3 linked regions of the Homo sapiens genome follow. The protein of the gene in region 3 interacts with the protein of the main gene of each other region in a biochemical or structural test. Each region holds a gene or a part of one and is shown on either strand. Other genes may lie near its edges.

Region 1 (3,751 bases), on a different chromosome or scaffold from region 3:
GGGTGGTGCTTCCTGTCATCTGTGGATTGAGGCTAGGAATAGTGCTAAACAGAATCTGGCCCAAAACGTCAGTAGTGCTGAGGTTGAGAAACCCGGCTCTCCACTTGCCTGGGAGCGGAAATATAGACCTAGCAACCAGAAAGTAGCTCATGTCGCCCTCTAGTGGTAAAAATCCAGCAACACAGAATCTCCACCCTCAAATCACTAAATTCTCATATGATGAAAAGTAATGTAACTTTTCCCCCTTAAGAATTTCCTTATAAAACTGGGATGTTTCTTATATCCCTGCACACCATAGATAAATACGGTCATATGGGTATCACCCATTTCAGCTCTTCCAGAAGGAGAAATGTTTTTACTTATTTATTTTTGAGACAGGGTCTCACTCTGTCACCCAGGCTGGAGTGTGGTAGCACAATCACGGCTCATTGCAGCCTCAACTTCTTGGGCTCCAGTGATCCTCTCACATCAGCCTCCCGAGTAGCGAGTAGCTGGGACCACAGGTGCGTGCTACCATGCCTGGCTAGTTTTTGTATTGTTGGTAGAGACAGGGTTTCATCATGTTGCCCAGGCTGATCTCGAACTCCTGAGCTCAAGTGATCCTCCTGCCTCAGCCTCCCAAAGTGCTAGGATTACAAGCATGAGCAACCACGCTCGGCCAGAAGCAGAAATGTAAGGTACCCTCTTAGATGCCTTGCTAGAGAAAATAGCAAACATAAGGGAGGTATTAAATGCTAAAGTATACAACAAAATTCTACAGTAAAACTATATGAAATTATTCAAACCGTGTTTTTAAATTATGAAGTTAAGCCAAAGGCTCTTTTGTCCTAAATCATTTAGTACTTTTAATAGTTCTGTGATGAACTGATCAGGATACGAGCCGGACACTGAACTGTGTTTTTTTGCAGGACACAGACAACTGTCAACTAAACAAATAATCATGTCACTGTTTGTTTCATTTGAGTTAGCAAACATTCCCAGGATCTCTGGTATTAGCCAGGCTCAGTGTGACCTCAAACCCACCCAGCTGTGGTTTTCCTTCATTAACTCGGCAGGCATTTGCCATTTTTTATCTCAAGAGGTATTTCACACTCGAATGGGATTCTGATGGAAAAGTGTTTTTTTCTTTTTCCCCTGAGCCTAGCACTAATGCTTCCCTTTGATAATGTTGGACTCTTGAAAGCCAGAGTACAGCCACCAACTTACAGGTGGATTCCGGGGTTACAGTAGCCTTTCTCGATCGTCTCCATGTGCTCAAAGTCCGTCCAGGTTTTACCAATAAGCATCTGCCACCGGTAAGGCAGATGGAAGTGGACTTTGCTGCAGCTACCTACAAAGACAAAGAAGGGGTCTGAGGGACTGTTGAGCAGGGATTCTAACCAATTCAGTCAAGTTCACTGCCAGCTTTCCCCATCCATGCCTGCCCTGCCCCCTGCCAGACAGGTTCCATCTATACCAGCTGACACTGCTGTGTGTCCATTATCCAGGTTCCTTCATTACCTTGGAGACTCATCAGAAAACAAAAATTCAGGCAGAGTGTGGTGGCTCACATCTGTAATCCCACCACTCTGGGAGGCCGAAACAGGCGGATCATTTGAGGCCAGGAGTTCACAACCAGCCTAGCCAACATGGTGAAATCCTGTCTCTACTAAAAATACAAAAATTAGCCAGGCATGGTAGTGGGTGCCTGTAATCCCAGCTTCTCGGGAGACTGAGGCAGGAGAATCACTTGAATCTGGGAGGTGGAGGTTGCGGTGAGCCGAGATCACCCCACTGCACTCCAGCCTGGGTGACAGAGTGAAATTCTGTCTCAAAAAAAAAAAAGAAAAAGAAAAGGAAACAAAAATTCCCCACTGCCCCCAAAGTCACTCCACCCAGATAGAAATTCGAGGTAACCAGAAATTTAGTTACCCTTTCTGCACCCCCCCAAGTGTATGAAGCCAAAATGCTCTCCAGCAGAGGCAACAGCCTTTATTTCCTTGAAGCCCTGGCCTACAGTTCATCTCTTCCAGAAAGATTCTCTTAACGAATCTCACTCCATCCCCATCTGACTTGTATTTTTTGCATTCCTTTAGCCAGTACCCAATAGTCAGTTGGGGGTTAATTTTTTATATGTTTTTACTTACTTCACGCAGTTTTCCCATTTGCAAATTTTTTGTTTGTTTTTGTTTTTGTTTTGAGGCAGAATCTCACTCACTCTGTCGCCCAGGCTGGAGTGCAATGGCGCAGTCTTGGCTCACTGCAACCTCCACCTCCCGGGTTCAAGAAATTCTCCTGCCTCAGTCTCCCTAGTAGCTGGGATTACAGGCATGTGCCACCACGCCCAGCTAATTTTTGTATTTTTAGTAGAGATGGGTTGTCACCATGATGGCCAGACTGGTCTTGAACTCCTGGCCTCAAGTGATCCACCTGCCTCAGCCTCCCAAAGTTCTGGGATTACAGGCGTAAGCCACCATGCCTGGCATTTTATGGATGTTTTCATGCCCTACCTTAATTATAAACTTACTAAAGAGAAGGCTGCACTATGGTTTAGCTTACATCCCCCTTACATATTTGGCACAGGGCTAGGCATACAAAAGACAGCCATTGCAGGAATGCCGGCTGAAGAATGAATTGATGTTATAAGCTACAGTACAGGAAGACAGAAGATAGTTCTGTTTTTCAAAATTTGCCTTATATTATGTTTAAATTGTTTTGAAATATTCAAAATGAAGATGTGTGACAACTTCAAAACAAACAAAAAAGACAGGTTTAGACACTGCAGGGACACCCATAGAGTGGCCCTACTTGAGACTTGGCTGACTGAAAAGTACACAACCACTCATTATAGTCCACACCTCACACTTGTTAGAATGGCTGCTATCAAAGACAAACAGTGGCTGGGCACAGTGGCTCATGCCTGTAATCCCAGCACTTTGGAAGGCCGAGGCGGGTGGATCACTTGAGGTCAGGAGTTCAAGACCAGCCTGGCCAACATGCAAAAACTCCGTCTCTACTAAAAATACAAAAATTAGCCGGACGGGGTGGCACACGCCTGTAACCCCAGCTACCTGGGAGGCTGAGGCAGGAGAATCACTTGAACCCAGGGGGCAGAGGTTGCAGTGAGCTGAGATTACACCACTGCACTCCATCCTGGGTGACAGAGTGAGACTCCGTCTCAAAACAAACAAACAAAAAAGGCAAACAAACACACACAAAAAGAACAAGTGTTGGTGAGGATGTGGAGAAATTTGAACGCTTGTGCATTGCTGGTGGGAAAGAAAAATGGTATAGCCACTATGAATAATAGTTCCTCAAAAAAAAAAATTAAACATAGAAGTACTATATGATCCCCCAACTCCACTTCTGGGTATATATCCAAAAGAATTGAAAGCAGGGTTTTCAGAAGGCATTTGCACACCCATGTTCATAGCAGTGTTATTTACAATGGCCAAAAGGTGGAAGCTTACAGAAAAGTCCTTAGGTTACTCACCATTAAGCGGACAACCCTTACACAGATGGTCAAGACAAATTTCCTCTGAGTCATGATCATCCACCCTAGAAGATGTGGTACTTGTGACATCAGATAAAGAATCTATGAAACAAAAAAGGATGCATGTATGCTGATCTTAATGTTTAAACCAAAAATCAAAGCACTTGGTCTCACAATGGGAAAGAATATCTGAAATGGGGGCCATGTTCAAGAAAATTCCTATGATTTATGTTTTGCCCATGAGCATCTAGACAGCCCCTCCATAAAACAAAAATGTGG
Region 2 (3,751 bases), on a different chromosome or scaffold from region 3:
ATCCCAGCTACTTGGGAGGCTGAGGCAGGAGAATCGCTTGAACCCCGGAGGTGGAGGTTGCGGTGAGCCCCGATCATGCCATTGCTCTCCAGCCTAGGCAAAAGAGCGAAGCTCCGTCTCAAAAAAAAAAAAAAAAAAAAAAAGTCATAGTCCTTGTAATGGGCCCCCAAAAGACGCTCTATATGATGCCCTCACTCCACCTACCTCTCTGACTTATCTTCAGCTGTTCTCTCTCCATCCCCTAACCTTCTCTGTTCCAGACAAAAATTAGCTTCCTTGTAGTTCTTCAACGTGCCAGGCATCCGCTCACCTCAAGGGCTTTGTACTTCCTCTTCCTCCCCAAGATATCCATATGGCTTGCTCCCTCAGCTCCTAAGATCTTCATGTTTTCTCAGTGAAGCCATCATAACTGAAATTGCAAACCCCATTCAACCCTACCCTGCACACTCCCTATCCCCACTCCCTGGCTTTATCTCCACAGCACTACTAACAAATCTCATTTCTACTTATTTTGTTCAGAATTTAAGCTCCATGAGAGGATGGATTTGAGTCTATTTTATGGACTGCTATATCCTCAGCATTTGGAACACTGCCTGGCACAATAGATATTCAATTAATATTTACTGAATTCTGAATCTATTTGATGTTATGAAAAGAGGGAAATAAACGATCAGAATTTCATCGTTAACATCATTAAGGCAGGGTTATTTTCAAGGCAGGATGTGCACATTATGGAAGGAAAACAAAAGGAGCCACTCAGGTATGGGGAAAAATAGTCTAACTTCTACTTATATTTATTTTTAACCAGAAAAATGTTCATATTTAAATAAGCTTTTAGGTATGAAAAACAATAAATGAGAACATTTTATTTACACTGCCTTCACCTAAAAAAAAATACATCATAAACTGTTTCATTCCACAAGCTACAGGGCATACGTTAAAAACAACAACAACAAATAACTTCTCTCTCAGCACAGTAATATACTGAAATAGTCATAAGATGTAAATACAAATCAAATGCTTCCCCAAAATGTGTTAATTAAACCCATGGCCATTTTAGGTAATGTCTCTGGTATTTTAAGACTAGTTTTTTGTTTTGATCATGGCGATGTAAGAGCAAGTGAGAAACTGACATGTTCTTTAGGTTCAAACTAAAACATTTTTAGAGTATTAAAAAGCTCAAGAGGCAATAATGAAGCCTCTGACCTTGGGAAGTCCTTTAACATGTGACCAGAACAAAAGAGGCTGGTCTTCATTTTTTAGGAAAAAAGTTAAGATATTAGGGATGAATAGCAGGAGTAGAAAAATGAGAAAATAACTGGATGGTAAAATTCCTTGAATTCTGGGCTCTCCTCACCTCCATCCTTTAATTTTACCCCAGGTCTTCATGTTTTTAGAAAGCCATAAATTGGGTGACTGGAAAAAAAAGAAAGCCAGGGCCCAAGAGTCCCAATCCACCACTCACCAGTTACACAAAGTAGTAGCAGCTCTGTATCTACTATAAAAAGCTACAGAAAGGCCTCCAAAAGCGTATCCCAAAATAGCTTCAAAATCACTCTCAATACACAGTGGCAGAGATAGGTATGGCATTTACTTTCTCATCTTCAGTTCACCCTCAAAATCAGATATTCTTTGTAAAGAATGTACATATTAAGCACATCATGTGACCTGATCAAGCCTAGATTTAATTGGAACACATTCTAAAATAAGCTTTCGTGTGTAGAAAACATTTTGAAATAGTCCTTATAATATATGCTGCTCTCAAGTTCTAATGGACTGACACAAAAACATGCATAATTATTTCACTAAACTGTTGGTTTCCCTAACAAACCCACAGCATAAACTGTGGGAGGGGAAAAAAGGAATAAAATCCAAACTAAATGAAACAAGTCTGAAATGGCAGCATCTGAAAAAGTCTCAACCACAGAAACTGATGTCAACTTTTTTCCTAAAAAGGCAAAAACTGGCTAGGAAATAAAATCTTTCCGGCCACTATTCAACACATGACTAACTAAAATACCTTCTGGTTTTACACTATTCTTTGGTGGAAAGACAGAGTACAGTATGATTTCTTTAAGTGAAGAAGTAAAGGGCTAAAATTCCTACTGTTTCACTTATCTATCTTTTTTTTTTTTTTTGAGACAAGTCTCGCTCTCTTGCCCAGGCTGCAGTGCAGTGGCACGATCTTGGCTCACTGCAACCTCTGCCTCCTGGGTCCAAGTGAGCACCTGGCTAATTTTTGTATTTTTAGCAGAGACAGGGTTTCACCATGTTAGCCAGGCAGGTCTCGAACTCCTGACTTAAAGTGATCTGCCCGCCTCAGCCTCCCAAAGTGCTGGGATTGTAAGCGTGAGGCACCACGCCCGGCCTTATCTATCTTTTGGCACAAATAATTTACATTGCAGGTGGGATGCCATGGTTCACACCTGTAATCCCTGCACTTTGGGAGGCTGAGGCAGGCAGGGGAATCACTTGAGGCTAGGAGTTCCAGACCAAGCTGGGCAAGCATAGTGAGACCCCATCACTACCAAAAAAAAAAAAAAAAAAAAGTTGACAAATGAGATCACATAGGAAGGCCATAGTTGTTTACAGAAAAACAGAATAACCCTTAAATGAATTTTGTGATTCTATTATGTTTAAAAGCAGTCCAAGGATTGAATCCCAAACAGAAGTGAGTTTAGGGCCATGCATAATAGAAAGCACTGTAGACTATGTTCAGGAAATTAGTTAATGTAGACTATGTTCAGGAAGTTAGTTACTAAAATAGACAGGTAAGTTGGTAAAGGAATAGGGTATGGATTTAAATGTCCACAAAATTAAGTCTAAAGGAAGGTATCTCATCTTATAGAACGCATACAATAGTTAATGCTACAAATATTTTTAAAAGGAATCAAATATCACATCAAATTGATCTAATTATCAACAGATCTACTGGGTCTTGAAGAGCAAACCCTAGACTCACACTACTGTAAACTATACTGTAGTTAGTCAATTATAACAACTGACATTCTGTCAACCTATCTCTATTAACCAGGACTCTTATTTTTAAGTTGAAAAATAATTTGTGCTCAGTACGAAGCAATGACAGGTCTTAGATGCTCTTCTGCAAGGCAATGATTGGAGTATGTACAGTAAAATTTTGGGGTAATAAACAGTATTCTTAGAAAAAGTGCTAATTTGTGTGTGAGAAAAGTTGGTCCAGTTAGTAACTATCTATATCCCAGTGCATCCTGTCTACAGTGATTAGGTTTTTTAGAATATTCTCTGAAACACAAAATTGCAATATATGACCAGTAATATCAACTGTAGATCTTTTAGCTCATCTCAAACAAGAGCTGTCTGATAACTCAGTAACTGCCAATTTCATTACTGAAAAATAAGTGTTAAAAAACTGAGTGATGCTTCAATGATACCTACTCTGTAAACTCCAACCTGTCACTACATCTTTAAGCGATTCTAAAATATTAACAAACAGGGTTCTGGACAAAGTTGTGTGTTATAGAAAAAAAATTTAAATAAAGAAAAAAATTATGAAAAATTTGTAAGATAAAACAAACGGGCTCCTTTTTTGGGATCACTAATAAAGCAAGTCAATTCTTCATTATGTACACAACTGTAAGTTACTTATGAGAATCTGCAAGTTCACCCTCTATATATATAAGTGGGCATTTTTATTTATCACTTTTTTTGTAGAGATGGGTTTCTCTATGTTGCCCAGGCTGGTCTCCTGCCTCAAGCAATCTTCCCGCCC
Region 3 (3,751 bases):
CACAGAGTGCACAGCAGCTCCTGAAAGACGTGGCTCAGCACCGCCGCTAGCAGCTTGGGCAAGAGTTAGCTGCAGCCCAGGGCTGGTCTGGGCCTCTCTTGGGGGGCAGGGACAGCGGAGGGCTACAAGAAGGCCAGCCCTGAAAAAGCAAGGGACCCACAGATCCCCACCAAGCCTGCTGCAGCTGCTTATGATAAAGGAAGGGCTATATTTTTCAGTGATTGGCTTTGGCCTCCACATGGAAGTGGGTACCACTGGCAGGTGCTGCCTGGAGTGTTGCACGTGGGTGCAGAAGAAACAAGAAGACGGAAAGTGGGAGGGCCCTAGGCCTGGCCTTGACAACGGAACTCCACCCACTTCCAGGTTGGACGAGCTTGCAAAGGAGGGGTGGATGGAAACCCAGGGGGGTATAGCAGCTCAAGCGGCAAGGGGAGAGAGTGTCAGAAGGAGGAGGAATGCCACTGACAGGTGAAGCTAAATAAAAGCTGAAAGGCGTCCCTGGATTTTGTGACACGGAGTACCCTGATGACCTCAGAGCTGCCTGGGTCAAGGGCAGGACAGAGGTCAGAATGCAGTGGCACGAGGATTAGACTTCAGGCTCCCACCTCGGCCCCACATTGCAACCCTGGGCAGCCAAACACCAACATTCTGAATGAACCAGTCTGGGGGACAGCCTGGGCATCGGGGATTTTAAAAAGCTCCCCAGGATTCCAACACGCAGCCACAGTTGAGAGCCACCAATGTAGAAAATCTGCAGAGCTGCTTTTCCCCAACTGTCCTCAAAAGGATCATGGAGGAAATGAGCTAAACATACAGCTTTCCGTGCTTGCCTGAGTCTGATCTTGTAGGGCTAGAACAGGGCCCAGGAATTTGGTTTTTGGGGTTTTTTGTTTGTTTGTTTGTTTTTTAAGACAGAGTCTCGCTCTGTTGCCCAGACTGGAGTGCAGTGGCACAATCTCGGCTCACTGCAACCTCCACCTCCCAAGTTCAAGTGATTCTCGTGCCTCAGCCTCCCAAGTAGCTGGGATTATAGGCATGTGCCACCACGCCCGGCTAATTTTTTGTATTTTTAGTAGAGATGGGGTTTTGCCATGTTGGCCAGGCTGGTCTTGAACTCCTGACCTCAGGTGATCCACCTGCCTCGGGCTCCCAAAGTGCTGGGATTACAGGCATGAGCCACCGCACCCAGCTAGTAATTTGTATTTTTAACAAGCATTCGGGTGAAAGGGAGGCAGGAAACAGAGCTGCAGCTGAGACAGTTTTGCTAGGTTTGTTTTTGTGATTTGGAGAGATGTAAACGTGCTACAGATAGGCAAGCCTAGGTAGAGATGCTGAGGGTGAAGAGATGGGAATGGAAAGGCCTAAGAGAGAGCAGAAGATTCCAGAGAGCGTGTGGGGAGCAGACTCCAGAGCCCAGGGCCAGGGGGTCTTGGGAAAGGGGCCAGGAGGCGAGGAAGGGGGCACAGTAGATGCAGATGCGATGTCAATAACAGAGCAGGGGGAGCCCCTTCTACAGTGTCTGTCTTTTTCGTGAAGCAGAAGGTGGGCGGGACAGGGAGAAGGATGGAGCTATGGCCAGTGGGAAGTCTTGGGAATGGTGGCTCTGGAGAGTGGTGGGGAGGAGACAGGAGATGCAGGGCAGGCATGCCGGCAACGGGACGCCCGGTGAAGGCCGGTGACCGCAATCGCCCTGCCTTCTCTGCAGAGGACATGCAGGCGCCGACCCACAGAGAAAGGTGAGCTCAATTGGGCCAGACTAGACGGCAAGAGGGAGAGTCAAAGGACCGATTGTGAAATCTGAGCTAGTTAGGAAAAGTAAAGAAAGGCACTGATGACTGGGAGAAAATAAGGGAGCAACAAAGTAGAGGACAAGTGAAGGGGAGTGGCTGATATAGCCGGCCAGCTGGCCTCACAGAGAGCTGCACAGAGCGGCGCAGGAGAGACAGAACCAGTGGAACCGCGCACCAGCCCCGAAGCTACTCACACTCCAGGAGCTCAGGTCTGGACTTGGCCAGGAAGGTCTCCAGCACCTTGGCCTTGAGAGATGTTGAGTTCGGATGTGAGCTGGTGGCTTTGGCTGCAGCTGGGAGAGGAAACAGAGAGTGATTTGCAGAACAAACTCAGAGTGGACACCCCAAAGCTCCTTGCCCATGATAACTTACCCTCCAAGCCAGCTTGTTTTAAATCCACTAACTGTTCCGGGGCTCCAAACGTGGGAAGCTTGCTGGGTAAGGCAGGGACAGGGGCTGGGGGTAAGGAAAGGGAAATATGATACAGAGCAACGGGATGGCCTCTACTCCCTTCCACACTGATTAAGAGCCACTTCTACAAACACACGCCTGAACAGCAGGACAACACAGGGGAAAACAGACAAGGCTAAAGTCACCTTATTCATCTCACTTATGCTTGTCCTCCCCTCCAGCCTCAGGCCTGCTGCCATTACAGAATGGAATCATATAGAACCCATCACAGAACCCTGATGAGAGAGGTCGACTCTCACTACCAGCATTTAGTTCTGTGCTCGGGCAGTCTCAAGAAACGAACAGTTGCAGAAATGCATAACTTACGAGGTTTCTTGGATTTCTTTTCCTCTTCTGCAAAAGAAAGTTTTCAGATTTAATTTCTTTTAAGGCACAACACAATGACATTTTCAAAATAATAACATTCATGTGCATGAATTTGACCCAGACAAATAAAAGGATGTTTTAATTTGAAAAACAGAAGGAGTCAGCAGGCAAAATGAATCTATAGTGATAGAAACCAGCATGAGCGGTCGTGGGGGCGGGGACTGACTAATAAGGAGCATGAAGGAATTTTCTGGAGAAAGGGAAATTCTTTATCTTGATTTGAACAATGGTAACACATGTATGCATTTGTCAAAATAGATCTAACTGCACATTTAAGATTTACTGCAGGGAAAAAAGAGATTTACTGCAGGTAAATTATATTTCCATAAAGGAAAAAACACAAAAACCAAATAGGGAATCAGAAAAAAAAAAATGCTTGCCAAGGGCTGGGCGCATGGTGGCTCATGCCTGGAATCCCAGCAATTTGGGAGGCCAAGGTGCAGGAACCACTTGATCTCAAGCGTTAGAAACTAGCATGGGCAACATGGGGAAACCCCATCTCTACAAAATTACAAAAAAAAAAAAAAAGAAAAAACTAGCCAGGCCTAGTGGCACACACCTGTAGTCCCAGCTACTTGGGAGGTGAGGCAGAAGAATTGCTTGAGCCCAGGAGGATGAGGCTGCAGTGAGCTGTGTTCTTGCCACTGCACTCCAGCCTCAGCAACAAAATGAGACCCTGTCTCAAAAAAAAAAAAAAATGCTTGCCAAGTCTTTTAAAAATATCTGGAGTGTCTACCTACAGGAACTGAGTTTGGCTAAAATAGTCGTTCTCAAAGTCTGGTGCCCAAGCCAGCTGCAGTGACATCACCAGAGAACCCCTAAGAAATGCAAATTATTGGTCAGGCACTGTAGCTTACTCCTGTAATCCCAGCAATTTGGGAGGCTGAGGTAGGAGGATTGCTTGAGGCCAGGAGTTCAAGATCAGCCTGGACAACATATCAATATCCTGTCTCTACAAAAAAAAAAAAATTGTTTTAATTAGCCTGGCTTAGTGGCACATGCCTACAGTCCTAACTCCTCAAGAGGCTAAGGTAGGAGGATCACTTGAGCCCAGGAGTTCGAGGCTGCAATGAGTTCTGTTCGCACCACTGCACTCCAGCCTAGGCAAAAGAGCGAGACTCTGT

The links.
Region 1: of the proteins of TRIM25 (region 3) and ZC3HAV1, one has a biochemical effect on the other in vitro, tested with the Homo sapiens proteins (2 studies listed by BioGRID).
Region 2: the proteins of TRIM25 (region 3) and UBE2N form a complex in vitro, tested with the Homo sapiens proteins (3 studies listed by BioGRID, with this or other methods).

What each region holds. Positions count from the first base shown.
Region 1 is NC_000007.14:139,075,080-139,078,830, forward strand, and holds part of ZC3HAV1 (zinc finger CCCH-type antiviral protein 1), read right to left. Parts: intron 3,575-3,751; coding exon 3,473-3,574; intron 1,331-3,472; coding exon 1,207-1,330; intron 1-1,206.
Region 2 is NC_000012.12:93,414,329-93,418,079, forward strand, and holds part of UBE2N (ubiquitin-conjugating enzyme E2 N), read right to left. Parts: intron 1-3,751. UniProt on the Homo sapiens protein: The UBE2V1-UBE2N and UBE2V2-UBE2N heterodimers catalyze the synthesis of non-canonical 'Lys-63'-linked polyubiquitin chains. This type of polyubiquitination does not lead to protein degradation by the proteasome.
Region 3 is NC_000017.11:56,893,359-56,897,109, forward strand, and holds part of TRIM25 (E3 ubiquitin/ISG15 ligase TRIM25), read right to left. Parts: intron 2,595-3,751; coding exon 2,568-2,594; intron 2,247-2,567; coding exon 2,163-2,246; intron 2,084-2,162; coding exon 1,985-2,083; intron 1-1,984.